7 linked regions of the Homo sapiens genome follow. The protein of the gene in region 4 purifies or fractionates together with the protein of the main gene of each other region. This does not show direct contact. Each region holds a gene or a part of one and is shown on either strand. Other genes may lie near its edges. The genes, in order: MAP7D3, CYBRD1, TMEM63B, SLC14A1, ATP6AP2, SON and CLCN5.

Region 1 (4,097 bases), on a different chromosome or scaffold from region 4:
TTTTAACTGAATATTAAGTAAATTCCCTCATTCATTTAAATGCATGTTAAGTAAATTCTTTCATTCAATGAAGTTGAATAAAATGTTGACTTTATTATATCCAGACATAAAGGTGTTATCCCATTTTCTGGACATTTTAAATAATTTTTAAACCCTGTCCTTTCTGTTAATGTATTTCTTACCAGTAGGAATTTGGATACAAAGGTCTAAAAATCAGATTTGATACTACTACCACATTAACCTTTATATGATTCGGTTCATTATTCTCACCACAGCTACTTCTAAGGTTATTTCTGTTTAATAAGATTTTTAATTAGCCTGGTAAAAGTATACTTTTTTTGAGACAGGGTTGCCCAGGCTGGAGTGCAGTGGGATGCTAAAGGCTCACTGCAGCCTCAAACTCTTGGGCTCAGCCTCCTGAGTAGCTGAGACTACAGGCATGCACCACCACACCCAGCTAATTTTTGTATTTTTAGAGATGGGAGTTTGCCATGTTGGCCAGGCTGGTTCCAAACTCCTGACCTCAAGTGATCCACTTGCCTTGGCCTCCCAAAGTGCTGGGATTACAGGCATGAGCCACCACTCTGGGCCAAAAATGTAGATTTTGAGGGAAATTATCAGCTAAATAGTGTCAAATACGGACTATCCTTGGGACTTCTAAGCAGGAGAACTGAATGTGTAAAAACAATACTACAAGTACTTTATTGTTTTCTCTGCACTCACATAAAAATGTTGCAAGTGGGTATATAGGAGTGTCTATAGACCAAGAATTTTTGTTAATATACTAGTGCTCAAATTCAGAAAATAATTGTGGTCCATGGAATTGCCAGTACTTAAATTATTAAGGAAGCTGAGAAGAGTCTAATCCTCAAATTAAGCTAGGTCATATATTATCTGGGCTGTTCGGCCTCTGGGGTAAAAAAAAAAAAAAAAAATGGTGATCCTTACGGCAGCAATTGTGATGTCATTTTCAAGATTATGCTGTAAAATAACTCCCTCAGTAGCAATTAACACCTCAGAGTTCATTCATTTTATAAGTCCAAGGACAGCCCCTCTATTCCCTCAGTTACTTTAACTGCCCATCTTCAACTGTTACATTTTTCTCAATACATAGAAACCAGACTTGTATGCAGCATCACAGGGGCTTACTTCCTGTGCTTTTCTACAAAAGAAGAACAGAGTTAGTTTTCAGTGTTATTTTCAATACTCTTTCTGAAGATGCTCAGTATTGTGGGACATTTTAGATATAGCCATGTGTGGAATTAAAGGGTTCAGGGATTCCCCTATAATAACTCATGTGTGTCATCCTGGAATTTTAGTTTTCTTACTTTTCCTCATACTGTGCTTTCCTAATCTTACACTTCACCCTTATTGAAGTTTATCACTTTTCTGCCTGTTTACACGTTTGTTTGCACCTTGTATAATTTATATTTGTTTGCTTGACATCTACCTAGAATGATACCATCTCATTGGAGATTACTTCTTCTAAAAGAATATTTATTTCTCCACCTTCAATATGCATCAGAATAGAGCTCAACAATTGTAGATGCCTGGGCCCCACAGCCAGAGACTGGTGATGGGGAGCGGGCAGGCAGGCATTGCTGATTTTCTAAAAGTGAGTTAGGTGATTCCAGTGTGCAACCAGGATAGAAAGCCCCTAATTTAGGTAATTTATAAATGTACTCCTTAACATTGGTTGGGCCTGATCTTTCACTGAGTATTTCACTGTTAACACTTTGCTTCCCAATTCAGATCCATAAATTCTTAACCTGTTATCTTCTGAATTCCCAATTTATGGTGAAACTTAATTTTCCCAATTCCTCGCCAGCTCAGTATTTCTAACACTTGGTGTAATGTTTTGTTTGAGACATTTTTAAAACCTATTAATCATTGGCTCCTACTCATCCACAAACTTATGCTGCCACCGCCACTAACAACTCAATTATCTTTATGTCTACAAATACCCTGGCCCATCATAGTAAACACTTTAAATTCTTTGTTAAAGTGTTGTTGAAGATCATAGGTGTTCAATATATCTTTGTTGTTGACCCAGATGAAATCAGTCATGATTTATAGAAGTGATCCTATCCTTTATCATCAAATACAATTGGCCGTGGTTTGCTGACTCCTGTGTTAGCTATCCGTATTCTTAACATCTAATCCTTTTATCTCCCTGTATTTTAGTTGCTGCAGCAAACGAGATTGCTAAGGAAAGGAGGAAGCAAGATGTGGTTAATCGTGTTGCAACCCATTCCTCAAATATAAGATCGACATTTAAACCAGGTATAATTTCTCTGATGCTTTGATAGATGTCAAAGTGTCATATCTTTAAAATTTGATATCCTATTAATATCTAACTATATTCTTTTTTTTTTAGTAATCGATGGATCCATGCTTAAAAATGACATAAAACAAAGATTAGCAAGAGAGCGCAGAGAGGAGAAAAGGAGACAGCAAGACGGTATATTTTAGACCTTTTTTCAAAAATCAAAATGAATTGTGTTATATATTGCAAAGTGTTTTTAACTTATTCCTCCTAATTTGTTTATATGATAGAGTATAATTTTTATATTATGTATTATTTTGGATTAAATCCTTTTACTAAATCAGGCAAGAAGGCCCATGAAAATTCTTTGATTAAATTGTTTAATTTTTGAAGGAGTAGTTTATCTTAGCTTTGATTTTCTGAAAACTAAGGTCTGGAAATTTCTTCAATATTTGTAAAAACAATCAGAATGGGATTTCAGTAAAAGTGATTCTTTTTTTTTTGTTTTGTTTTGAGGCGGAGTCTTACTCTGTCACCCAAGCTGGAGTTCAGTGGCGCGATCTCAGCTCACTGCAGCCTCCGCCTCCCGGGTTCATGCCATTCTCCTGCCTCAGCCTCCCGAGTAACTGGGACTACAGTCACCCGCCACCACACCCGGCTAATTTTTTGTATTTTTGGTAGAGACGGGGTTTCATCGTGTTAGCCCGGGTGGTCTTGATCTCCTGACCTCGTGATCCACCCACCTCGGCCTTCCAAAGTGCTGGGATTACAGGCGTGAGCCACCGCGCCTGGCCAGTAAAAGTTATTCTAAAAATGAAAATAAATTGCCAATAATCCTAACATAGATAAGATGAAAAGCATGTTACCAAGTTGTAAAAAGATTATCCTTTTAGATCCTAATTTATACAGAGTCACACTTCAGAAGCATTTAGTGAGGGAAAATTTGAATATAGGAAAAATTTTGCTCTCCTGTAATATGGTATATGGTTAAGTCCATTAATGTAAAACTGGCATGTTTAATATGGTCTGTATAGATGAGGACTTTGAAAGAAGTTTCCTAGTAGAAGGGAACAAAACATGTATCCTGGCCATGCAGTTTTTAATAATTAGTATTTTAATGTACAGCATATTAATATGGTAGGGTTTGACTTTAGCTCAAATCAGCAGAAATATCACATGAAAGAAAATATTTTTTCTTAATTTGGAATTGTAGTTTGGACAGGATGAGAGTCATTTGGCACAGACAATCCAGTTCTCCAGAGTTAAATGAATACTCAGTGAAAATGGTTCTGCAGTGGCTACCTCTGTTCACTTTTATAATAAATCTTTAGTTACTAGCACAGGTTGTGTTATTTTAAGAAAGTGAATGAGATGTGTTAACTTTTTCCTTCTGTGTGTGTAATGTGGAAAACCTAAATATTTTCTTGGCTCTTACACCTTGAAAATGTATTTGGAATATTTCAGCCAATAAAGAAACACAACTACTTGAAAAAGAAAGAAAGACCAAGCTCCAATATGAAAAACAGATGGAGGAAAGACAGAGAAAGCTGAAGGAGCGAAAAGAGAAAGAAGAACAACGGAGAATAGCTGCAGAAGAAAAAAGACACCAGAAGGATGAAGCACAAAAGGTACATAATTTTGCAGCCTGTGCATGAGAGGATAAACTGTGTTGCCTGAGTCTAGAATATTGTTTTCTCAGGCCTTCTCTGCCTTACTTGCCCTGTAGAAAGGGAACCAATCCCAGCTCTTTCTTCTTCGCTTCCTCTTCCCCTCAGCATTATATAGGCTTTTACCCATGTCCTGATAAGATGCCAGGAGCTGAGACCCACTA
Region 2 (4,097 bases), on a different chromosome or scaffold from region 4:
GATTATAATCCTTCACAAAATCATAAGAATCAAAGCCAAATAATGCATCTAAAGGTCCAGCCCAGGGCTTAGCACACTGGTATAACACAAACTAGCTGTTGTTATTATAAGTGTAAATCCTGTGGTATGCCCCTTTATGACCTGCAGATGACATTTTCCACTTCTACTATTGATCATAGGTACCTTCATGGTTAAGAACATGCATTTTTTGTCATTGCAATTTTATTCCCAAATCTATTCATATATTCAGCAGTGAACCGAATACCCGTTATATGCCAGATACCTTGCTAGGCTGGGCTGTGGGTGATACCTGTTCCACAAGACAAATGTGGGCTCAAAGAGACATGCTCTCTGCCCTTGTAAAGCTTGCAGGGAAGATAGGCAATTGAGTATTTGGTAGATAGGAAGTGTTCTGGGAGGCCTCTCATATAGTATGTGAGAGCTCTCATATAGGGGATAAAGGAAGTCACACCTCACACCAAGACCTGAAGCCACACACCTGGTGTAGAAAGGGCGGAGAGTCTTCTAGGTGGATGGAATAGCATGTGGGGAAGAGTTTGTGGTATTTGAGGAGTAGGGAGGAGACCAGGCTGTCCAGAGCAGGGCATAGAAGATGAATTGGAGGCTGGACAGGTATAATTATAGGGAGACTAGCTTGCAGGTGTTTATGGAGTTAAGATGAGAAACAATGGTGGCCTAGAGGAGTAGCAGTAGCAATGTAGCAAAGTGGATAGATTCTAAAGATATTTAGCAGGTAGAATTAATGCGTGATGTAAAGAATGAGAGAGAGTCACTCACAGGCTTTATTGAGCAGGTGGGTAGCCACAAGTTTGAATAAGTGGGTAGATGAGAAGGGAAACATTGGAGGGGAGGAGAGGGCTGGAGGAGTGTTAGATGCTACTGAGGAGATAAGCAAAATAAAGTCTGAAAACTGATCATTAGGCTTAGTAACCTGGAAGTCACTAATGACCCCAGAAAGCAATTTCCTGGCTTCCTTCCTAGGAGCCAGACTGCAATGGATTGAAGAGGGAGCAGAAGGTGAGGAAACAGAGTGGTAACTCAGTCAAGAGGTTTGGGTGAGAGGGGAGGAGACAGAGAGGGTGACAATTGGACAGGGGCAAGAGTCCAAGGAGGCATTTGGGTGCTCTTTTTTTTTTTTTTTTGTCTACTTCTGCTTTTTATTGTGAGAAGTTTGGGCTTATGGAAAGGCTAACAGGATGGCACCAGTAAAGAAAGAGACACTGTGAACACTGGAGAGACACAGTGATGTATAGCTAGGTCCTTGGGAAGCAGGTCACAGAGCACAGCTGAAAAATTGGAGGACATAATCTCCAATGTAATTGAAGAAAAGAATTGTTGGCTTGGGGTGATTTCTTGCTTTGTTTTGTTTGGTGGCAGGAAATTGAGGCTCTTCTCTGAAGTTGCTTCTGTTTTTCCCATGAGGTGATAGTAAAATCATCCCCCAAGAGTAAGGAGGCACATCGGAGAGTCAGACATTTGAGGATGGGGGAGAATGGAGAGCTCATTGATAAATAAGACAATAGAGGTTTGCTGAGCAGGGTTGTTGAACTGCTCATAATCATGAACTTGGAGTGATGCTAGTCTCTGTGGTTGTGGTTTACTCCAGTATTACCTAGCAGACCAGGGGTAGTCATGAAGATGGCTGAGCCAGGGTTGGGGTATTGCCAAGTTGATGTGATGAAAAGACAGTGTAGCAAGGAGATGTAGAATATTGGCAGGAGACTTAATGACCAGTTTGAGTGTCTGTTACGTCCCTTATAAAAAAACTATGGGCATATTGTAGTTGGTGCTGGTTAGATTTATTTATTTATTTATTTTTAATTTTTTTTTAACCCCTGGAAGAAAAGTGTCATTACACTGGAGGAATGCAATTTGGCAATGACCTAAGACAGCGTTTGGTCCCTAGAACAGCAGCATTAGCATCACTAGGGAAATTAGAAAGACAGATTCTCAGCTTCCACCCTAGATCCACTGAACCAAAGACTCGGGCTGGGGCCCAACAATCTGTGCTTTAACAAGCACATAAGGTGATTCAGATTAGTGCTAATATTTCTGAATAATTAATCTAAGAGAAAAGCCTATGAATGGTCAAAAAGTTGGACATTAACAGTAATATTAATGAAAATAAATGTGAGTTCTTTAACATTGGGAGCTTGTCTGTCTTGTGTAGCATTCCCAACACTCCGAACATCTGGGTCATAAGAGGGGCAAAACGTATGTGGAATGAAGGACTGAATGAGTTTATAAAATAGTACAAAGATGAAGGAGAGCTGGGAGGAGCTTCCATATAATAATCTACAGTTTACTTGAAAGCTCATTAAATCTACCTGTACCCTAAAAAAAAAAAAAAAAAAAAAGCAAACCATACCTACTACAAAAGCTAGCCAGGTAGATATTTTCTGGTCTCATTAATGTCTTTTGCAATAAGAGCTTTTGTTATGTCTAAAAGCTTACACACACTAAAAAAAAAAAAAAGAAAACAAAAGAAAAGAAAAAAAACCAACCTCAGGCCAGACATGGCATGGTGGCTCACGCCTGTAATCCCAACAATTTGGGAGGCCAAGGTGGGAAGATCAGTTGAGGCCAGGAGTTGAAGACCAACCTGGGCAGCATAGCAAGGCCCTATCTCTGTAAAAATAAAAACAAAAAAACTCATCTGTTTCATAAAGTGAGAAACTGCCATAGTAGTATACATTTATATCTTTAAGAATAGTAATAATTAACTGAGAAATGCCCAGGCATTTAAGATGGAAACTTTATTCTATTCTATTCTATTTATTTATTTATTTACTGAGACAGCGTCTCACCCTGTCGCCCAGGCTGGAGTACTGTGGTGCAATCTTGGCTCATTGCAACCTCTGCCTCCTGGGTTCAAGTGACTTTCATGCTTCAGCCTCCCAAGTAGCTAGGATTACAGGCCCATGCCACCATACCTGGCTAATTTTTGTATTTTTAGTAGAGAAGGTGCTTCACCATGATGTCCAGGCTGGTCTCAAATTCCTGGCCTCAAGTGATCCACCCACCTCGGCCTCCCAAAGTGCTGGAATGGCAGACATGAGCCACTGTGCCCAGCCAACATGGAAACTTTAAAAGTAAACTTTTATTGTCTATTTCTAATTATAAAAGTAATACACATTAATGTTAAAGTTTATAAGATGTAGAAAGATATAAAGAAAAAACCCTGGCTATTCTGGGCACACTGCCTGTGGGGTATTCCTGTTCCACAAGGAGTAGAACCTCTGCTGCTGCTACAAATTAAATAAAAAAACAAAAAATGAAAAAACCCACTGATACTGCCATAATCTAGAGATATCATTAGCTTTTGGCTTATTCCCTTTAGGCTTTTATTATGCCTATGCAAATGTAGATATAGATATTTAATTTTTAAACATAATTGGGTCATACTGTATTTTCACTTTCATCTCTAAGTAATAACTTTTTATGAAAGTTTATTTTTCCTTAGCTCTTAAGAACTTCCACTGTGTTGAAGAACAGCTTCCTGTAGGTGATGATTCCTAAACACTGGGGCACTTTGTTTGCATATAGTTGGCATTTAGTGTGTTTGTAGACTATATATAATGGAATATTCCACTACCTTCTCTTTTGAGGGTTTTCCAGACTGTTTATCCATATCTCTAGAATAATTTGAGTGAATCAACAGCAGTCATTTTCAAACTTCAACATACGTAAGAATCGTCTGGGCAGTTTGTTAAAAATACAGATTCCTGGGCCCTAATCCAGAAATTGGATTTAGCAGGTCAGAATGTGGCCCAGGCATCTTTTTATTTTTTATTTTTTTGTTGTTGTTGTTTTTGTTCTTGAGACAGAGCTTTGCTCTGTCACCCAGGCTGAAGTGCACAATGTCAGCTCACTGCAACCTCCGCCATCCGGGTTCAAGCAATTCTCTTGCTTCAGCCTCCAGAGTAGCTGGGACTACAGGCATGTGCCACCATGCCTGGCTAGTTTTTGTATTTTTAGTAGAGATGGGGTTTTGACATGTTGGCCAGGCTGGTCTTAAAATCCTGATCTCAAGTGATCCTCCTGCCTCGGCCTCCCAAAGTGCTGGGATTACAGCA
Region 3 (4,097 bases), on a different chromosome or scaffold from region 4:
TGCTGCTTTTAATTTTGAAGAAGATATGTACTCCAATGGACCTGGGTCAACAACCTATGACCCAGTCTGAGCCAGGAGGAGGTTTGGGGGTTAGGGGGTTTGAATGACTCACTCTTCAGGTTTTTGTCTTATTTTTCCTGTTCTTAAAGGGGCCTATCACCCGACCCAAGTGCTAAACCACCCTGGAATCGGACATTTCTTCCTGGATCTAATCTCTATCCCACCCACGGCAGAGCTCCAGGCTAGGGTATAAGGATGTTCTTAGAGTTCAAAGGCAGAGAAGGCTCTGCAGCAGGGCTTGAGGGTAGGGGGAAGCGTGGCTTACTCACTCAAAATGCTTCTTGATCTTTTCTGACTCTGCATATTTGGAGATTCCATTGATGAAGAGGGTCCGCTTCACCTGGGTGACAGGGGAGTGGGTTTGCCTTCTGAGGCTTGACCCCAGTGGAGCCAGGGGATGTGAGGGGTGGGGGGCACTAGAGAAAGAGGCTTTGTTTTGAGTGGGTAGAGAAGTAGGTGAGCAGAGGGGAACAGATGGGGTGGGAGGAGGCCTTAGTTATGGATAAGCCAGGTCCCAGGGAAAGCAGGGGAGTGTTTCCAACAGAAATCAGGCAGTGAGCCTAACAAAAGAGCCACGCCGTCCCATGCTCTTGAGGGGTTATAGAGGCAGAAGGGGGTACTACTTTCAGCTCCTTAGACCCTGAGAACCCAGCACAGTGGCTGGCATGGAGTAGGTGTCCGGTTCTGGCTTGGTGAGTGCATGTAGAAGGGGAAGGAATATTACTATCCTAGGATCAGCCACTGCTATTTTCCCAAGTGCTGGGCACAGCACGGCTGTTTCTGTGTATTCCCCACAACCTTGGGGGAGGTACTGTTGTTATTCCATTTTACAGATGAGAAAATCATGGCTTGGGAGGTTATGTAACTTGCAGGATGGGAGCTCCTGAGCTGCTGTGCCAGCATTCAAACCTAGCTGACACCTCTTGGGGCTGAGACAAAAGAGGCCTGCAGGGAAGGGAAGGGAAGAGGCTGGGGATGGGGCAGGACCTGGGCTCTGCTCCACGCACCAGATCATCCTCCTTGTAGCGCATCTTGGAGGTGTGTCTACGCATGCTGTAGACGGTGAGCAGCAGATACAGGAAGGCGAAGGAGGTGTGCAGCCATAGCAGGTTGTTCCTGGGAGAAGCAGAGAGGATACATGGGAGCCACTGGGGCTAGGACACACTCAGAGGAGACACCTCAGCCTGTCAGTGTTAAACCCTTGATACAGACAGGGCCCTCTACTGCCACCAGCCTTCTGGCACTGACTCCTCGCAAGGCAGGCCCACATCCCACATCCCCTAGACACCAAAATTCTTCGATTCCAATGAAAATATCCCTGATAGGTCACCTTTCTACGCCCTACCCACTGGTTACAGTGTCTCCAACTGCCCCAGCTGGCCCTCCCTGGTTCCTGAGATTTCACCCTCCTCTTCTGTATCCTCTTCATCCTTGGGGGATCCTCAGCAGGCATTTCCCTCTTCTGTCTCCAACCCAAGCCCTCAGGGACCCATAGCCATCCCTGTAGGCTCTGCTCCCATCAACGCAGCTGCCTTTCCTCCCTGTCCCACATCATGGCCCAGACTCTGGTCGTAGACCTTGGCCTGGCCGACCAGCTTCGCATCTTACCCTGATTTCAAGTTGGCAATGGTGGTTCTCCCAAAGCTGTAGGCATTGTTCTCTGTGGGGTGGGAAGAGGGAGAGGATGATGGTGGGGTCAGGGCACATCCCCTCCAGCCCCATCCTCTCTCCACCCTAGCCGTCCTGGCCCTCACTGACCCAGCAGGTCCCCTGAGAAGTTGACAGGCAGCACGATGCCTACGGAGAGGACGCCCACAACCACCAGCAGCCCGATGATGTGCCGCTGAAAGGACAGGTAGTGCACGGCATCGCCCCCACATTTGTCCCGGATCTCATCATCCCTGCAGCCATACGGGTTGGACAAAGGAATTAGGTTAGGACCAGGGCAAGAAGGGGGCTGCAACTTGCCTGCCCTCACCCACTCCCACCCCAAACCCACCCTAGCTCCAGCTGATCTGGCAGTAGTATAGGGCTGAAATGGGACTTCTTGGTCCCCTATTTTCTGTGAAGGGAGAGGGGAGAAAGGGAGAAGAGAGGGGGAGGGAGAAAAAGGAGAAATGCATGGAGAAGGGGAGGGATGAAGGCAGAGGGCTAGAAGGAAAAGATAGGTAAAAGAAAGAAGAGACTGCAGAGACAGGAAGGGGAAGAAGAAAAATGAGGAATGCAGAGAAAAGGGAAGAAAAAAGAGAAATATCTGAGGAGGGAGGAAGGCAAGAGAGGAGGAGGACCAGCAGGAGGAGGAGTGGTGAAAGAGGCAGAAGTGAAGGAAGGATGGGAGGAGGGGCAGCAGCACCTCATGGGTGTGGCTGAGCCTGGCGTAGTGAAGCCCGGGTACCCTTGGGGGAGGCCTGGGGGAGTGGTGGCGGCAGTGCTGACCTGTCCTGGCTTCCTGCCTTTCTCAGCGCTCACTGCCTGCCTGCTGGACTCTGGCTGGATCTCCTGAGTTCTGCCTGCAGCTGGCTGGCTGCTCCCAGCCTACTGCTGCCCCCACTCACTGGCTGCACAGAGGTTGAGGCAGGGGCTCCACCCCCTCCCTCAAGGTGGGGCAGGGCAGGGAGAGAAGCGGGGGGGCCGGCAGGGGGTCACAGAGGAGATTATGGGGTCAAGTGAGTGTTCAGGGTACAGCAGAGGCTCAGGCACCCGAGGCTTGGCCTTTGAGAGCAGGGAGGAGGGTGCTGTGCTGGCGAGGAGTGCTAAGGCCCTGAAAGCTGCTGGCTTCTGAATTTTGTAGGGAGATGCCAGGTTCTGAAGTTTCTCTCTTTCTTTAGAGCTTGAAGATGGTCCACTTACTTTATCCTGAAGATGGCTGTCAGCCAGGAACAGAAACCCTGGGGGAACAGAGGGCTGTCAGCGGGAGTCCCCAGCCCACCAACCCGAACCTCTCTCCTCCCTCAAGTCCCACCCATTCTCATAATTACCTCCAGGCATAGCTTCCACACCCCTCACTAAAAAAAAATCCTTATACCCTCAGAACTAGCTTATACCCAAAAAGGGAGAGAGAGAGGGAAGGTCTCAGCCCTCAAAGAAAAAAGACCAACACTAAACAGGTTTATCTGTGAATCCCCATGTCCAGATCTACAGATTTCTGCAAATACCCTGTGGCTGTGTGGGCCAGGGTGGGATGGGTGGGGCTTGGGGTTCTAAGGTTAGCAGGACCTCCAGACCTCCGGCTAATAAGTTTGCAACATGGCTGCCAAAAGCAGAGAAGAGGGCCTTGCTGCCTGAATTCCAGCTATTTATCCTCTAGTCTACCCCAGAAGGACAAAAGCCCAGGGTCACTATGAGCTGCAAGGTATCTCCCCACCTCCGGCCAGGTGCGGTGGCTCACGCCTGTAATCCCAGCACTTTTGGAGGCCAAGGCGGGCGGATCAACTGAGGTCAGGAGTTCGAGATCAGCCTGGCCAACATGGTGACACCCCGTCTCTTACTAAAAATACAAAAATTAGCTGGGTGTGGTGGTGCGCGCCTGTAATCCCAGTTACTTGGGAGGCTGAGACTGGAAAATTGCTTGAACCCAGGAGGCGGAGGTTGCAGTGAGCTGAGATCACACCACTGCACCCTAGCCTGGGCGACAGAGCAAGACTCTGTCTCAGGGAAAAATTAAAAAAAAAAAAAAATCTCTCCCCTCCACCCTCCAGGCATGTAAAGGCAGAGAATGGGGATATTCAGGGGAGGGCTGCGCAGAGGGCACCCTGCCCCAAACTCCATCCAGCAGAAGGTCCAGACATAACACAGGATGGGGTAGAAAGGTGCCTTTCGGCCGTGATTCAGGACCATGCTACCTGTTGCCAACATCACCTGAGTCTGGGGACCATCTGGACACTTCTGGCTAGCAGATGTGACAACTTTGCCACCTACCAGTATGAGTCCAACTCAGGAAGCTGAAGGCCATCTTCTGCTGGAATTGCTGGAAGAGCTGCCACCCCTAGGACTTGCAGCCCAAGAGGGACTGACCAGGGCCACACCATGTCTGAGGA
Region 4 (4,097 bases):
GGGGAAGTGTCTTCTCCCCTCTTATATTAGGCTGAGTCTAACATTGGCTAAGGGCACCAGACCATAGTGTGAGTTTGACTCTACCCTAAGATGGACTCTAAATTCTTCCAGCCCATGCTGAGTCTTCATGTCTAGACATTTTGCTATTTCTAGACCAGGGAACTTGGCAAAGATGGCATATGCTTTTTTTGTTTGTTTGTTTGTTTTTGGACTTGGCTGCAGAACTCTCTCTCAGGTAGCCATAGGGTTGGGGTTGGTGCTGAGGATGGGCTGTTCATTCAGAGTGAGAAGGACAAGGCTTCCCCTGCCCCAGATCAGCACTGTGCAGGATAACTTTCCGAGATGATGGAATAGTCTGTATCTGTGCTGTCTAATACAGTGGGTCCTAGCCACGTGTGGCTATCAAGCACCTGAGATGTGGCTAGAGAGGTTGAGGAACTCAATTTTTAACTAATCTACATCTAAATTTATATAGCCACATGGGGCTAGAGGCTCCTGTGTTAGTGCAGTTCTAGATCGATTAATGCTATTTTATACTGTTATTTTTCATGGGTAGTTCTAATGAATCTTTGATTTTTTCCTTCTGAATTATTTCCAGGTGCTCCCTTTAGTTTTCTGGCAAGAAGCTAGGGAGAAGGTGACTTGAGCTCCTCGTGTGTTTTGATCACTCAACAAAGAAGACAAAAGGGCGTTTCATAACCTGACAGTGGGAGAGCACATTAAAAAGGTAAGGTTTCTTTGGTTTTCTTCTAATTTCAGGTGTTCTCTTGTTCTTGATAATCCAGAAACCTTAAACATATTTATTACACACCAACAGGAAGAGCTGGAATTTGATTTGGGTTAACCAGGTTTTAAAAAATACAGAATCTCTTTATAGCCATCTTTAAAGAGATACATAGGATTCACCCCTTGATACAGTGGTTCTCAAACTCTGGCCCGCATCACAATTTGGGGAGTTTGTTAAAACAGGTTCCAGGCCCCACCCTTAGAGATTGTGATTTAGAGGGTCTGAGATGAAGCCTGTTTGGGTATTTAAAGCTCCCCAGGTGATTCTGATGCCTACCAAAGCTTGGGAACCCTAAATTATTGTAGATGTTCTATGAGCTATGCCATAAGGAAAAGCAGAATAGAGAGGTTCTGTCAGAAGCTCTAAGAGTAAGCATCCAGTTTTTTGATTGGAGGGAGTAGACTATGGAAGATTTAAAACCAGGCTGGAGGCCACATGCCTTAAGGGCTGGCTCCCATCACCCCCACCCCCAAGCTTACGATAGAGTGACTCCCAGTGGAACTGTACTCTGGGGTTAGCACTGTAGATGTTTAGGGGAAAAGGCAGAAAAATCAGCTTGACTAAATAGTAATTTTAAAAAATCCCTTAGACCCTAATGCTCTGGAGTAGAACAAATGCTTTAAATGGCAAGATGAAGGCAGAAAGGCCACCATAGTCCTGAGCATCTAGGAGACTCTGACACCCGTGGACAGTTGACCAGGAGGCCATTGCGTATCTTGCAGAGCCAGGGCGAATGTGAGAAGCCAGTGTCTCTTACCTCCAGGGCACTGAGGTCAGACCAGGAGATATTTGGAGCTGTAGTTATAGGTATGACCAGTTTGGCTGGAAAGAATGGATTGTAATGTCCTGTGGCTGAAAGGTACATTGACAACGCCATGTTGAAAGGGAGGGTGAAGACGGGGAGGTCCCATTTGCTGAGCATGGAATTCAATGCACTTGAGAAAATTGGGCTAAAAAAAGAACAGAGCAAAAGAATGTGCATGTGACAAAGCAGGCTGACACACGGAATCGCTATACTCTGGAGGGGCTTTGTTTCACCTGCCAACAGGCCCCTTACGTGTTGTGTTGGCACATTTGCCACAGAAAGAAAACTTGGGATAAATCCTATTATAGAGGCAGTAAATATTACATAAAGTAAAAAATCAACTCTCAGCTTATTTGGCTTTTGAAAAATTCTACTCTGGGGTTGCTCAGAGTGAGCTATATATTGAGATTTTAAAAATATTTTTGAAGTACTTATGACATACAAAATAAAATATTATCTACATAGTTAAAGTCCCCTTTGTCCCTCCACTTGCTCTTATGTCCCTCCCTCCCCACTAGAGGCAACCCTGATTCTGATTTGGCAGATATTATTTCTTTAATATACCTATTTTTGGAAAAGAGAAACAATCGTTCAAGGATGCAGGTAGTGTGAGCTGGAGGAAAATGATATCACAGTTGGTGGGGCAGAGTGTGTGTCCTTGAGCTGTTGATAAATTGCATGACCTAGGCAAGGCGCATCTCCTTAGCCTCAGAGCCCATAAACTGTGGGGCTGGGCTGCATGGTCCCGAGGTCCCTCATAGGCTCTCACTTGTTGGCCCAATCAAAGAGCCATCACTTAAAGACCAGAACTCCCATTTTCCTGGATTGTGGAAGGGAGCGTGGTGAGCACTTACAGGCTAGGCCTCCTTCCCACGAACCTATTCTTCAGAGCAGGGCCCAAATTACTTCCTGAAGAGTTTAGCTCTACAGGTAGGTCCTCGTCCACACACCCGTGGGTACAGTAAGGGTGGGCATCCCTTCTGCAGACACTGCCCACAGCAGGCTGTGCTTATTTATGTGCATATTAGTATTTTATATTTAACTACAATATAGAAAGAAGGAAATCTTTGTTTCCAGAAAAAGGATGTAAGACATTGTCAACATAAAAACTAGTTTGAAGGATTTGGGTTTGAAAAAAAAGGAATTCAGCAAAAAAATTTTTTCTAAGGGAGACCTGGGGGGCAGGTGGGTAAGGGGGAATTCACGTAGGCACAGTGGTTCTCCCAGCATCATGTGGGAATGCGTTAGAAACGCAAATTCTCGGGCCCCACCCCAGATAGACTGCATCAGAAACCCTGGGGCCGGGGAGCAGATGCCTGTGGTGTAACAAACCCTGCAGGTGATTCTCATATTGCTCAAGTTTGAGAGGCAATGATGGAGGAAGTGGGTCTCAACTTTGGCTATACTTTAGAGTCATCTGGGAAGCTTTAGAAACTCCCAAAGCCCAGGCGCTACCGCAGACCAATGACAGTAGAGTCTTGGGAGGGAGGAGTCAAGTGTATGTGGGGGCCACGTGCATCAGTGTGTTTCTACCAAAAAGACACCTGCACTCGTATCTTCATTGCAGCACTGTTTCCCTTCCCCATGGAAGTGTCAATGTGCAGCCACCTCTGGTTGAGAGGTATTAGTGGATGTGTAGCCAGATCAGACAAAAGGCCAAATAACTGGTTGTAAGGAAATATACATCTTTTAAAATGGTTGTTTCTGTTTCCAATAGACAGAATCTACTGGAATCCAATTTTAAATTTACCATTTTAACTGTTTGTCCTCCTCCTGCTCCTCTTCCTCCTTCTCCTTGCCCTCCTGCTCCTCCTGCTACTCCTCCTCCTTTCCATCCTTCTCCTCCTCCTCCTCCTCCTCACTTAGCCCAAGCAAGGAGGTTCGGAGAACTGGAGTGCGGTGACGCAATCATAGCTCACTGCAGCCCCTAACTCCTGGGCTCAAGTGATCCTTCCCCCTCAGCCTTCTGAATAGTTTGGACTACAAACAAGAACCACCGCACCCGGCTAACCATTTTTAAGTGTGCAGCTCAATGACATTAAGGACAATCACATTGTTGTACAACCATCACCACTATACATTCAGAGAACATATTTCATCTTGCAAAACTGAAACTCTGCCATATAACAACTCCCATTCCCTCCTTCTGCCATGTTTTTTTTTTCAAAAAGGCATTTTGAAAACCAATTGTAACTTACCAAGTCATGGACATAGCACATACAGGGAGTAACAGCCACCAGAAATAGTCTCCCTTGTCCGAAAAGACAGCCATGAGTACTCCCACCAGGGTGGCATTGTAGCCATAGAGCCCAGATGCTATTAATGACCTGTGGGGCAAGAGACACAGCACGGACATTTCCTGGGTGAGCTTTGGTTGCACTTGCACATAAATAACACTAGTAACTTCCAGATCATATTCATATTAAAAAATGAGATTATATTTGGAAATGTATTTCAAAGTCTACGTAAGCATCGTACAAAAACTAATAAAGACATGAAGTGAAA
Region 5 (4,097 bases), on a different chromosome or scaffold from region 4:
GTGATCTATTGCACAAAATGGTGACTATATTAAATAATAATGCATTGTGTATTTCAAAATTGCTAAAGGAGTAGATTTTAGATACTTTTACCACAAAAAAAATATAAGTATGTGAGGTGATGGATTTGTTCATTAGCCTGATTTAATCAGTCTACTTTGTAAACTTATAACAAAACATAACATTGTACCCCATAAATATATACAGTTACTATTTGTCAGTTAAAAATAAAATAAAAAGTATTTGGAAATAGTAACAAACAGAAGATAACAACTCCTCAGATTTAAAGCATATGGAACACCCAGTAGGCAAAAGCCAGATCCACACCTACATACGGTGAAATTGAAGAGTCATCAAGGAAATGGAAAATCTTAAAAGCTGTGAGGGAGAAAAGACACTGTCATTACAAAGGAATGAGAGTAGAAGGAAAGCAAGGAAAATGTAGTGATTGTGTAGTATGAGCTAGGCTGAGTATTATTTGCATTGTCATAATAATGAAATGATGCTGATCAAGTGAAAATTTTGATATAACTATTGGGTAAGAGTGGGGAGATAGAAACAGAAGCAGAGCGCATGGATGGCTCAGCGCATGGATGGGGCAGTGGTTGGTGATGTGAGAGAGCTAAAGCCTCATTTTCTATAATGGATAGTAAATAGACAAGACCTAAAATTGAAAAATCAGGAGATGTAATTTAAGTGTCTTATTTAGAGATGTTAAAAGCAAAAAAAGTCAACAAGAAAAGATAGTTGGAATAGATGCACTCCTAAATAATTCATGGGTTGAGGAGGAAATCACTGTGGAACTTTTTAAATTATTTGGAACTGAGTAACAATGAATGTAGCATTTATTTACAAAATTGGGAGGTGCAGCTAACGTGGTAAGAAAAGGGAAATTTATAGCCTTAAATGCATGTTTTAGACAATTTAGGTTGTCTAAGAATGGAAATTAATGAGCTAAAGAAAGCGGAAGAACTTCAGAGTAAATACACATAAAGTAGAAGGAAGGGAACAATACAGATCAAAAGGCAGATTATTTCACAGGGAGCATTTAAGTCATTTTTTATGTGATTTCTGTGAAAATCATTGCAGAAGATTTTCTTTAAAATTATAAAAATCCAAAATGCCATTTTGAGATTTTTATTAGCATGTAATCCAAAAATAAAGATTTAAAAACAGACTAGCCTCATTTTACATGAGAAGAAGCTGTGCTGTGTGAGGAGCTCATTTTATTGCTTGGCCCTGGTTGGCTGCTCAATGCTTTTCCTAGCAGAAGATGGTAAATGAGATAAAAGATTCAGGGGCAAACCCCACAAAACATAAAAATCAGAGTATCTTAGAATTCCATTTAACGAAGCTTCCATTTGATTAGCTAGCTGTTTTAGTTAGAATTTCAAGTCATACAGGTACAGAAATTTGAGGACAGATATGCATCTCCCTTACAATACAGTGAGAGAAAAACCATCATTCGATATTAAGCAGCCAAGCTTTTTACTTTTTGAGCTTAGCTGCCTATATAATTATTTCTTTTCCTTCATTGGTGTTCATTTGATTCATGAGCTGCTTCAATTTGATCGCTATGGACATGGTTCCTAATCTTCAACTTTCCTGAACCGAGCGCCATTTCACTAAGTGAAGTGAGGCTGGAAAGTTTGCATCATTTGCTCATGTATTCCCCTCACAGCCTGAGGAGGTAAACTCTATGATCGCTAAAGGAAAGCACCTATAGATGATTCAGGGCGGCTGCTAGCAGTATGCTTTTGCAACTTTGAACTCTCTTCCCCCTCTTCACTTACTCATTAACTCATTTTGAGAGAATTTGGGGAAGAGTTAATAAGCATCTTGAGTAAGAGAAAAAAATTATTTCATTTCACAGAATCATAAAATTGATCACTTAATATTGATGCTGGGCCTGGGCATGGTGGCTCACGCCTGTAATCCCAGCACTTTGAGAGGCCAAGGCAGGCAGATCACATCAGGCCAGGAGTTTGAGACTAGCATGGCCAACTTGATGAAACCCCGTCTCTACTAAAAATACAAAAATTAGCCAGGCGTGGTGGTGCGTGCCTGTAATCCCAGCTATTCAGGAGGCTGAGGCAGGAGAATCACTTGTACCTGGGAGGTGGAGGCTGCACTGAGCCGAGATCGCGCCACTGTACTCCAGCCTGGGCAACAGAGTGAGGCTCTGTCTCAAAAAAAAAAAAATGTGATGCTGGGATTTTATCAGTAAGACATAATCACATTGATTTCTGCCTGTATCATATTAGCGTTACTTTGCTACTTGTAAACATGAATCTTTAAGTAGTAAGGGAACTACTGAATGAAAGATCAATGTAAGAAATCTCCATTAAAACAAAAACATGACTGTACTGCTTGTTTTAATACAGTAATACTGGGAATGAAATAATTTTTTTAGGGGAAAAATAACTGTAATTTATTTTTTTAAATCATGTACTGCAAAACAAATCTATGGGGATAGAAGTCAGAATTTTTGTTACCCTTGAGGGTGGAGGTAGTACTTCGAGGGCGCTGATAGTGTTCTGTGTCGATCTGGCTGGGCTACCTGAGTGCATGCATGTGTAAACATTTGTTGAGCTGTTACCCCAAGATTTGTATACTATATTATATGTATTTTGCACTTTAATAAAAAAATTGAAGGAAAAAAGTAGGTCTTATCACCATTGGTTATTTCAATCTAATAATATCAACATGTCCTAAGATAAAGGCTTCAAAAACCTTGTGACATACTTAACACCTTATCTAAGAGTCTTTAGGCTATCTGAAGACAAATGTTAAATCTCATTAAACATTTTTAAAATTTTGAAATGAAAGATGAATTCCATTTTTATTTCAATTAAATTCAATACTCAGATTCCTCTAACCTCTTAAATGCAAATTAAATACTTTATTGTGGAATATGCATTCATCGTGGCACATTTAGTCAATATTGAAACCAAATGTATTGCTGCTTCAAATACATGAATGACCACCAGAAAATGGTTTGTGCTAGATATAGTGTTGTGTCCATCAGGTTTAAGTTATTTTCCACTGAGGCATGATGGGAGATACAGACTTGGCTTACCAGGGGGCTGTTTAATCTTCTGTGCCCTCAAAAGGGCTTGTTTGGAAATGATTTCGGGCTTCTAAATTTCCATAGAAAGTGCTGGAAAAAAGTTTAAGGCTTCTTTTTAAATACCATCTGAATGATTTTTCTTCCCACTTTGGTTCACATAATAATTGCGTTCTTACTCTTAAATTTCAGGCAGTTCCTTTTAGTCTTGACAGTGTTGCAAATTCCATTCACTCCTTATTTTCTGAGGAAACTCCTGTTGTTTTGCAGTTGGCTCCCAGTGAGGAAGTAAGTGATAAGGGTTTTATTCAAGACATTTTAAAAAATAAGCTTTTATTATTTGAAAATTATGAAATGTAATTTTATTATGAAAATATAAAACTAATTTATGAACAATGTTGTCATACCTCTGGGTATTGGAACTAATCTGTAGAATTTGAGCAACTTAAAATTTTCTATTCTTCTTACAGAGAGTGTATATGGTAGGGAAGGCAAACTCAGTGTTTGAAGACCTTTCAGTCACCTTGCGCCAGCTCCGTAATCGCCTGTTTCAAGAAAACTCTGTTCTCAGTTCACTCCCCCTCAATTCTCTGAGTAGGAACAATGAAGTAAGTGCAGTTATTCAATGAATACATGAATATCATTAATTTCCGTCTTTTTAAAAAATAGAGACAGGGTCTCACTCTGTTGTCCAGGCTGGTCTTGAACTCCTGGCCTCAAGCAATCCTGTCTTGGCCTCCCAAAGTGCTGGGATCACAGGCTTGAGCCACTGCATCTGGCCTCCCATTCCTTATACTACTTGAAATTTTGGAAATTTTGCTATTTTAGAAAATGAAAGATTGTGCACATTTACTGCTGGGGTAGATTCTTCTTTAGTGTAATTTTCTTATGACTCTCATGAATAAACTGATCCTTTTTGTGAGTTGAGCTGTGGTAAATAACATCACATTTTAGCACGAGGGTTGCCACCTATTAATTCAAACAAGCCAGAGGTCATAGATCTACTTGGTGACTGGTGGAGCTGTGTGGATC
Region 6 (4,097 bases), on a different chromosome or scaffold from region 4:
AATAAATCCCAGTTTTACATTTGTCAGCTTTTATAAATGAGGTTTAAACAAGCTATACAAAAATCATACTGAGCTGGCAAGCCTCTCATGATTCCACTTACATTATTCCAAGGGAAGAAGTTATTTAAAAGACGCCAATTAGCTATCATCTGTGGGAATGATTAAATACTTAGCAACTACATACAAGCTACATAGAAGACACAGTGCTGCCCTGCCCAGGTATCTGAAGGTAAAAGGAAAATACAGTCAATGCTAACAGTTCCAAGATGCCTTAACACAAGGCAACAGGAAGAAGTAACATTATTGTCAGCAGCTGGTCTACTATACTCTAACCCAACTTAACTACTGAGCTTGGAAGAAAAAAGCAAACAGGGTTTATGAAATCTAGACTAAACCAGTATTGTAATAGGAAATAATGAAGATGTGCTAAAATATCTAACAAAAAATAAACTAAACTCTAGAAAAAAGGATGGTTCCTTGTCAAGAGAAAATAAAATGGAAATCCTGTTTTCTAAACATGAAATCCAGTTGAATTTGGAGGTGTAATAATAAAATTAGATATATACACATTTCCATATTTAGCAACTAGCATAACAAAAGGTGCCTTTTAAAAGTTCAAACTGGTGTCTCTATCCATAGTTATATAAAAATAAGCTGCTCTGTGAACCCCAAAAGGGGTTAATGTTTTTTCTGACAAATACCTGTATATATACAAGAAGTGCCTTCAGTTCAGTATCACTGGGTTCAAAAGGATATATTAAAGGTAATGTTAAAGGAGACGTTAATAAACATTCCAAAAAAGAACTTGTTACCTTTTCGGTCTGTCTTAAAATCAACTAGGATGGGTTCCTTATTGCCTTCTTTGTTTTTTCCTAATCCTTCTCCTTCTCTCCAGCCCATTTTTCTCATCAAAACGGCTCCCATTCCTCCAGTTACCGGGGCTGCTCTTAAGAACTGATCCTATCCAAAGAAAGAAAGGTAAAATGTCCCCATTTTACAGTTAGAACTTGGTGACAGATTCATTGTTTACTTTCTAAAAAGAGGAATCTTACTTTACTTCTAGATCTGTTATAGCAATTAAATGTAAATTCCTCTATACTTTATACATACTGTAGTGTGTATGTTCTGATTATTTGCACATTAACGTAATAGTATTTTGGAAGTCAAATAAGACAAGTAAATGGCAGTTTTGAAACAGTAGCCCTCGTGCCCCCCTCAAAAAAAAAAAATTAGAACACTCCTGTTTTCGTCCACTATTTAGGTTCACTGGTATCTCTTCTTAGCTTGCAAAATAAAAAGAAGGCAATGTTAAAACAATCAATGATATTAATTGTCCCAGGTGTACCTAGTTTATGAATAAAGCCCAGAAATCACTTAGAAATAGTTTAGACACTGAAGAAGCATACTGTTGTCATCCAAAGTTTTCTTCCCCATTCTACTATAAAGCAAGTATAAATATTTTACTTAGAAAATCCCTAAAGCAGAAAAAAAAAAAAAAACTCTTGAAATTTACACAGTAACAAATAGAAAACAATCACATAAAATATCCTGTAAGTATGCCAAAATGAATTTGAATTCTTTTAAAACCTAGCTTGATGTTAAAAGACTTTTAAAAAACTCCTTAAATGTTTACATACCTAGGCCTCGGTAGCAGCAGTGTTGTGAATAGTACGGCTGGCACTGACCGGGGCAAGAAGACAGCTACAAGGATTTGGCCCTGAAACAAGTTTCCATACAGAGGGGTGAAAGTTCACAGGTTATTCTGTGAACAGTCATCTCTCTTGTATCCAACCCACTGAACCATAATTTCCATCAAAGCAGCAAACCACTTAATGTCCTAAGATGCACAAGTATATATACATTAGCATGGTCAACAGTTATTTTTACAGGTTAAGAAATATTCAATGCCTCTTATTAAAGGGCATCCATGTACATATAGCAAACAGTATTAAGTTGTACTGTTGATCTTTATGGTCATTTTTTAAAAATTTGAAACATATCTCCAAATCATGCTTTATTTTCCCCTTGTTACTAAATTTTAGGTTTTTATGTTCTCTTACCAAATATATATATATATATATATATAAATATATAATATAGCAAAAGTCATTAACTTATCAACAGAGAGAGTAAAAAAACTTCAGTAGCTCAGGAAATAGTATGCACATCTCCTATATTGATAAGTTAATACTGAATGTAAAAAAGAAATGTTTGTATGCAGTAGTAAAACTGTATCTATCATCTTTTGTTTCCCAGCTTTGTAATTAAATGCTGGGGAGAAAACATGCCAATGACGTGTGACTAGACATTAAGTTCATCAAGGTGCTCTGATGGAAGGAGGCAGCTGTGGAGGTAAAAACATACCCCTGGTTCAGTTCCTTATTTGGTGCAGGCCATGCAGTGTAGATGTATAAAGAGAAAGCTGATGCTTGGATATTAACTGCCTTGATGCTACACACCTAGAATGTCTTTTACTTACTTCCAGGTTCATCCGTCCCTCTTTTCCAGGGAACACGCCTAAAAAAAAGGGCAACTGTGCAGAGTACAATATAAATCCCCAAATAACCCAGGTTTCCAATTTTGTTTCCATTCCCTAGTATCATCATCTGTTTCTTTACCCCAGTGTGAAAAAGCTGATTAATTTAATGAGACCACAATAACAAACTGTATTTATCAGGTCACATCCAAATCATTCCATTCTAGAAATAAAATTTCTTTTAAACGAACTACTTTAAATGTTTTACTGATTAATGAGACTACTGATAAAACTTTGCTTTTTTTGTAATCTAAAAATACACTGCAACAAACTAAAAAGAACACGGAGGATGTTGGTATTCCATGTGTTTTTTAACACATAAGGCAGATGCTGGACTATACTAAAGAAGAGCCAAAATGATCGTTTGACAGGTTTTCTAAACACAACTAAACATTTAATGAGTAGACAATATTTGTGATATTTAACATGGATCATACATCCTAAATTTTCAGCTGCCTAATGACTTCTACATGTTGTGGCCCATTTTTAATTTTCAAAAGTTTCTTTTTTAGTTGATACTAGCATCAAATATTCTTCAGTAATTCTATACAAATGAATCTTTTCCTTTAAGTGCTACTTTTATCTATAATTTAAAATTTGGTCTGAACATATCTTTATCTCATAATTTATCAAAATAATTTGCTTCCCAAAGTATATCTTACATAAAATATAAAGTTGAAGCCTTTTTTCAAGGTGCTACTAAACATTTTAAAGTTATTAAAGTCTGTTAACTGCCTACAAGACTGCAAATACCAGAAGAAATTATTTTAGGGGAAAACCAATTGAGTCAGTAAAAGATTCACTTTTTAAAAGTTATTTAAGTTATTAACACATTTATAAGTATACAAACATTATGGATCAGCACATCATTAGATAAAGACCAAAATTTTGTAATGGAAGCACATTCAGAAGTTTCTACCTAGCAGTGTACATGACTCTGTATTATGTGCCTATTTTAACACCCATAAGCTTTATTTCTAACTTCCTGAAATACTGGCTGAGTACTTAGCTTCAAGACTAAATAGTATTAAAGAATTAAAACTAAAGAAATAGATGTACATTTATAGTTCTTCCAAAGATGAAAGACATTTTTTCAAATATTATATAAATCACTTTCATAGTAACTATAATATAGAAGTCCAAGATTAATCCAATCTTTAAAATATTTTGCTATATACATTTTCACCCTTTATTCTAACACCAACCCTCAGCAAACTGCAGAAATTGTAATTTCTTAATGAATCTAACTGTGTACTCACTATACACATCAGTGCAACTACTTCCCAAAAAAAGGCAGGCATAATGAGTATACATGATGTTTCATATTAATTTGTTAGTAAGATCAACAAAGATAAAGCTATCAAAATTGAAATAAATGTTACAAGATTAAAATACACAAAGCAACCAATGTCTCATTTTTCAGAAATTCAGCTCATTCACTGGCACTCATAGCAACTCTCTATAGGTAACCATCACGTTACTGATTACCACTAGACACCTCAGAGACTTTGAAATTCCAAAGAGTTACTTGCCCATGATTACACAAGGAGTCAGGAGTACA
Region 7 (4,097 bases), on a different chromosome or scaffold from region 4:
TTCTATATTTGAAATCTCAATATCTTTGAGTTTCCTTCTGGGTCTTGTGGTTAATTTTTTTTTTTTTTTTGGTTTTCATAAGAAATCATTAGGTTCCTGTTTTGTGAAAAATCCTTTTAAGTGAAATGACCTTAGTCTTGACCCATTCCATATGTGACTTCTTTGTAATTCAAAGAAAATAAAGCAAGAGCCATTATTCTCTTAGGCCCTTAATTATAGCAAGAAAAAAGTAAACCAATGACTTGGAACTTTTTTTTAAAAAAGTCCTTCCTCCTCAAAACAGCATACATTAACAACTGCATAAACATGACAGCCACTACAGAGGTGCCATGGCGGGACTAATTTAGCTGGGCTGAAACAAAAGGTAGAGAGAGGTCCAATACAGAGAGAAACTAATTCAAGTATAGTGTTAGATAGAAATAGAAAGTGAAAAAACCGACATCTGAAACATACACTGCACTTATATGTACTATTCCATAGCAATAAACAACTTCTTTTAAAATCTATTCTTTCTGTAACTTATTTTGTAAGAGAAGCAATATATACTTGAATAGAATTACATACAATAAAAAGTTAAAATCCTTACTTCTCCTTCACTACCCCTCACTCTCCCACTCACCATAGATAAACATTTTTAACAGTTTGACGTGAGCCAGGCATCGTGTCTCATGCCTGTAATCCCAGCACTTTGGGAGACTGAGGGAGGAGGATTGCTTGAGCGCAGGAGTTCGAGACTAGCCTGGGCAACATAGTGAAACCCCGTCTCTACAAAAAATACAAAAATTAGCTGGGTTTGGTGGTGCGTGCCTGTAGTTTCAGCTACTTGGGAGGCTGAGGTGGGAGGATCATCTGAGCCAGGGAGGTCGAGGCTGCAGTGAGCCGTGATCATGCCACTGCACTGCAGTCTAGGTGACAGAGTGAGACCCTGTCTCAAAAAAAAAAAAAAGTAAAACCAGTTTGGGGTAAAACCACCTTCCAGACATTTTCTATCAATAAGTGCATGTACACTTTTAAAAAATATGAATTATATTATATACATTACTCAGAAACTGGCTTTTAAAATCAAATGGTGTTTCATAGCCAGAATTCCAAGTCAATATATAAAAGGTTATCTCATTTAATGGTTGCAAAGTATTCTACAGTATGAACAGAATAGTATTTATTAGATCAGTTCCCTATTGATGGACATTTTTGTTGCTTCAGTTTTTTACTATGTTGACAGACGCTGCACTATCCTTATACACCTTTGTGCACACACATGCTAGGATATCTGTAGGATAAATTCCTACAAGTGGAATTGCTGGGTCAAAGGGTGTTTGCATTAACATTGGTAGAACTCTCAAATTCTCACCCCCTAAGATTGTATCATTTATGCTCACAACCAAAAAGAGACTATTAAGGCCATTCATTATTACCTCTCTGCGCTTGGCTTCATTCTTCCTGTATTTGTTGAAGCAGTGGCACAGGATGTTCCCACAGCAGCAAGCCACGTGCACTAGAGGGCCCTCTTTGCCCAGGCTCAAGCCAGATGACACTGCCAGCACCAAGGTGATGGTTTTGATAACCAGAGTCCACTTACCCAAATAGCCCCTAATAATGAAACCACTCAAGATAGTTTTTATCTGCAGGTTAAACACAGAAAGATTGAATATAGACTAAGGAAGTCAACAAGGCTAAGAAGCAAAAATCTGGACCTCATTATAGAAACTGCACCTTTTGAATAAGTGACATATAAATGCTTGACCTACAGTGATCCCTGTTTGGAAGAGAGCCCAGGAGCCCAAGAAAGCAAGAACTGTTCTTTAAGCTTTCATGTTCCCCCTTTTTAGGGGGAGGGGAGTGATAGCTGGGCAAGGATGTATTGTAAGTATGAGAGTGTGCATATATGAAGGAGGAGCTGGAGAGGGAGGGATAGGTGTTTTCCTCATGTTACAACGTGGTAGCCCAAGAGGCATGTTTTGAGAGGACAAGGCTAATGTCCCTGAAACAACCTTAAAGGTTAGGTATAGTCTTGATTCCCTGGCTTAAAAAAAAAAAAAATTGTGACTTATTACCTGGTCAGGAAACAGGGAAGGGCAAAGTCATCCTGGTAACCTAAGTCTCAGTGTCTTTAGTCACTGTCAAGCAATCTAAGCCAAAAGTAGTTAGAAACAGGGTTTTAACCATCCCATGTAGCCTAAATCATATTGTGGGAAAGGTACCAAATGATTTTCTTTCTTTTGCCCTGAAAAAGCTGACAATAACACTGCTTTTTCAGGTCAGAATCTTGGGATATACTCTGGAAGCTTTTTGGATAGGGAACAGGGGAAGTTTTCCAGAGCCTGGCTCAACAGGAACCCTCAGGAGGCTAAGAATCAACTCCCTTTAATTTCCTGGTAGCCCAGGCTGAGAGGGACTTGTGGAAAGACCTAGGTCTTAGATGGCCTCAGGATCTGATCCTGTTTAACATTCATCAAATTGTGGTATGTGCTGGAATACATATTAAGAGATTTTAACCAAAAAGTATTCATATTGTAACCATTTATAAACCATTTTAAGAGACTCACCTCAGGGATTCCAGAGCCACAGGCATAAGGCGCAAACACCTTGACAAGAGATACGGCAAGGAAGGCAAATAGGAGAGCCCAGAGGACGTACATGAAATAATTGACTATGTAGGCAAAGGCTCCCTGGAACAGGGGGAAAAAGAAGCTTGTTTTAGCCTAGACAGCTTCAGTGAGACATGCAGCTCTTCTGAGTAATGTTTTTTCAGGAAAAAAAGTCCAAAAAAAAAAAAAACCACCGAGATTAAATTGTTCAAGACTTTTCTTTCTGAATTGTCAACTACTGAAACACTGTCAGGCCACTTAGTACTGAAAATGAGATGCTTTGCTACACCCAAAGGAAATTTACCATGGATTCTAAGGATGAACAAGGAAAAGAGCAAACGGAAAACCATGAAACAAAATTCTCTTTCTATATGAGTGCTTTGATGGGTTTTGTAGTCAAATATATATGATTCCATGTCATTTTACCAAGAGTCTTAAGAGCACCCCCCCAGCTTTTTTGGAATGGCTGAACCTTGGCTTCACATCTGAAGTGAAGAGCGGATCTAAAGTTCCACTAAATTCACCTTTGGCTACTTACCTTGGTGTCAAATTCTCATAGTTTATAGTAACAAAATTTTGGGTGTTTGGCTTTTTTCTTTGCTTTTTAAAATTTTTTTATTGTATGTATTTAAGGTGTACAACATGATGTTTTATATATATACATATAGCGAAATTGTTACTACATTGAAATAAACTTACATGCATATCACCTTCCATAGTTACCTTTCTTTGTATGTGTGGTAAGAGCATCTAAAATATACTCTTAGCAAATTTTTAGTATACAGCATTATTAACTCTACTGTACATTACCTCTCTAGACTTATTCACCCTACCTCACTGCAAATTTGTACCCTTTGGTCCACTTCTCCCCATTTCCTCCTCCTCCATGCCCCAGGTAACCACCATTCTGCTCTCTGGTTCTGTTTACTCAACTTTCTTTTTTAGAGTCCACATATAACTACATCTTCAAGAAAATTTTGGTACCACAGACTCAGGAACAACCATATAAGTAGAAAGTTTTGGACCCTGGTGGTACCAGATATAAATAAATAAAATGGAAACAACTATTTTTTAAAATAGAAAGAATATACTTTTTGAGACTATTCCCCTGTGATAAATGAAGCATGCCACAAAAGAAATCTAGCTTTGACCAGCAGGAAAGATTCATCCATATTAAAGGGCCTGCAAATAGTCATGTCTTACAAAAAAAGCAATTTTGATTAGGAAGTTATGCTTGCTGGTAGAAATATTAGGAATTGCAACTCACTCAGTAAATACAAAACCCAATGGACTTTTGACTTCATAACACAAAACACTATTAAAGTAACTCACTGACCTAGACAAAGAGAACCAGAATGCTCAGGTTTTTTCTGAGTTGTAAATTTGACACAGGTTTTCCATTATCTTAGGCCCTCAGAGGAACACATGATTGCTATTTCTTTGCCTTTCCAATGTAGCTAAGGAGGAAGAAGACTGCAGAGGTAGGAAATGAAGAGGGTAAGGGAGTGA

The links.
Region 1: the proteins of SLC14A1 (region 4) and MAP7D3 purify together in Homo sapiens (affinity purification with mass spectrometry; one large-scale study listed by BioGRID and IntAct). This does not show direct contact.
Region 2: the proteins of SLC14A1 (region 4) and CYBRD1 purify together in Homo sapiens (affinity purification with mass spectrometry; one large-scale study listed by BioGRID and IntAct). This does not show direct contact.
Region 3: the proteins of SLC14A1 (region 4) and TMEM63B purify together in Homo sapiens (affinity purification with mass spectrometry; one large-scale study listed by BioGRID and IntAct). This does not show direct contact.
Region 5: the proteins of SLC14A1 (region 4) and ATP6AP2 purify together in Homo sapiens (affinity purification with mass spectrometry; one large-scale study listed by BioGRID and IntAct). This does not show direct contact.
Region 6: the proteins of SLC14A1 (region 4) and SON purify together in Homo sapiens (affinity purification with mass spectrometry; one large-scale study listed by BioGRID and IntAct). This does not show direct contact.
Region 7: the proteins of SLC14A1 (region 4) and CLCN5 purify together in Homo sapiens (affinity purification with mass spectrometry; one large-scale study listed by BioGRID and IntAct). This does not show direct contact.

Annotation. Positions count from the first base shown.
Region 1 is NC_000023.11:136,244,429-136,248,525, reverse strand, and holds part of MAP7D3 (MAP7 domain-containing protein 3), read left to right. Parts: intron 1-2,184; coding exon 2,185-2,283; intron 2,284-2,377; coding exon 2,378-2,461; intron 2,462-3,730; coding exon 3,731-3,894; intron 3,895-4,097. UniProt on the Homo sapiens protein: Promotes the assembly and stability of microtubules.
Region 2 is NC_000002.12:171,546,289-171,550,385, forward strand, and holds part of CYBRD1 (plasma membrane ascorbate-dependent reductase CYBRD1), read left to right. Parts: intron 1-4,097. UniProt on the Homo sapiens protein: Plasma membrane reductase that uses cytoplasmic ascorbate as an electron donor to reduce extracellular Fe(3+) into Fe(2+).
Region 3 is NC_000006.12:44,137,331-44,141,427, reverse strand, and holds part of TMEM63B (mechanosensitive cation channel TMEM63B), read right to left. Parts: intron 2,949-4,097; coding exon 2,911-2,948; intron 1,962-2,910; coding exon 1,819-1,961; intron 1,721-1,818; coding exon 1,669-1,720; intron 1,177-1,668; coding exon 1,068-1,176; intron 401-1,067; coding exon 330-400; intron 1-329. UniProt on the Homo sapiens protein: Mechanosensitive cation channel with low conductance and high activation threshold. Osmosensitive cation channel preferentially activated by hypotonic stress.
Region 4 is NC_000018.10:45,734,096-45,738,192, reverse strand, and holds part of SLC14A1 (urea transporter 1), read right to left. Parts: intron 3,920-4,097; coding exon 3,791-3,919; intron 1,738-3,790; coding exon 1,545-1,737; intron 728-1,544; exon of another isoform or gene 599-727; intron 1-598. UniProt on the Homo sapiens protein: Mediates the transport of urea driven by a concentration gradient across the cell membrane of erythrocytes.
Region 5 is NC_000023.11:40,593,992-40,598,088, forward strand, and holds part of ATP6AP2 (renin receptor precursor), read left to right. Parts: intron 1-3,257; coding exon 3,258-3,353; intron 3,354-3,535; coding exon 3,536-3,673; intron 3,674-4,097. UniProt on the Homo sapiens protein: Multifunctional protein which functions as a renin, prorenin cellular receptor and is involved in the assembly of the lysosomal proton-transporting V-type ATPase (V-ATPase) and the acidification of the endo-lysosomal system.
Region 6 is NC_000021.9:33,570,171-33,574,267, reverse strand, and holds part of SON (protein SON), read right to left. Parts: intron 1,718-4,097; exon of another isoform or gene 1,638-1,717; intron 961-1,637; coding exon 813-960; intron 1-812. UniProt on the Homo sapiens protein: RNA-binding protein that acts as a mRNA splicing cofactor by promoting efficient splicing of transcripts that possess weak splice sites.
Region 7 is NC_000023.11:50,079,166-50,083,262, reverse strand, and holds part of CLCN5 (H(+)/Cl(-) exchange transporter 5), read right to left. Parts: intron 2,670-4,097; coding exon 2,547-2,669; intron 1,623-2,546; coding exon 1,416-1,622; intron 1-1,415. UniProt on the Homo sapiens protein: Proton-coupled chloride transporter. Functions as antiport system and exchanges chloride ions against protons. Important for normal acidification of the endosome lumen. May play an important role in renal tubular function.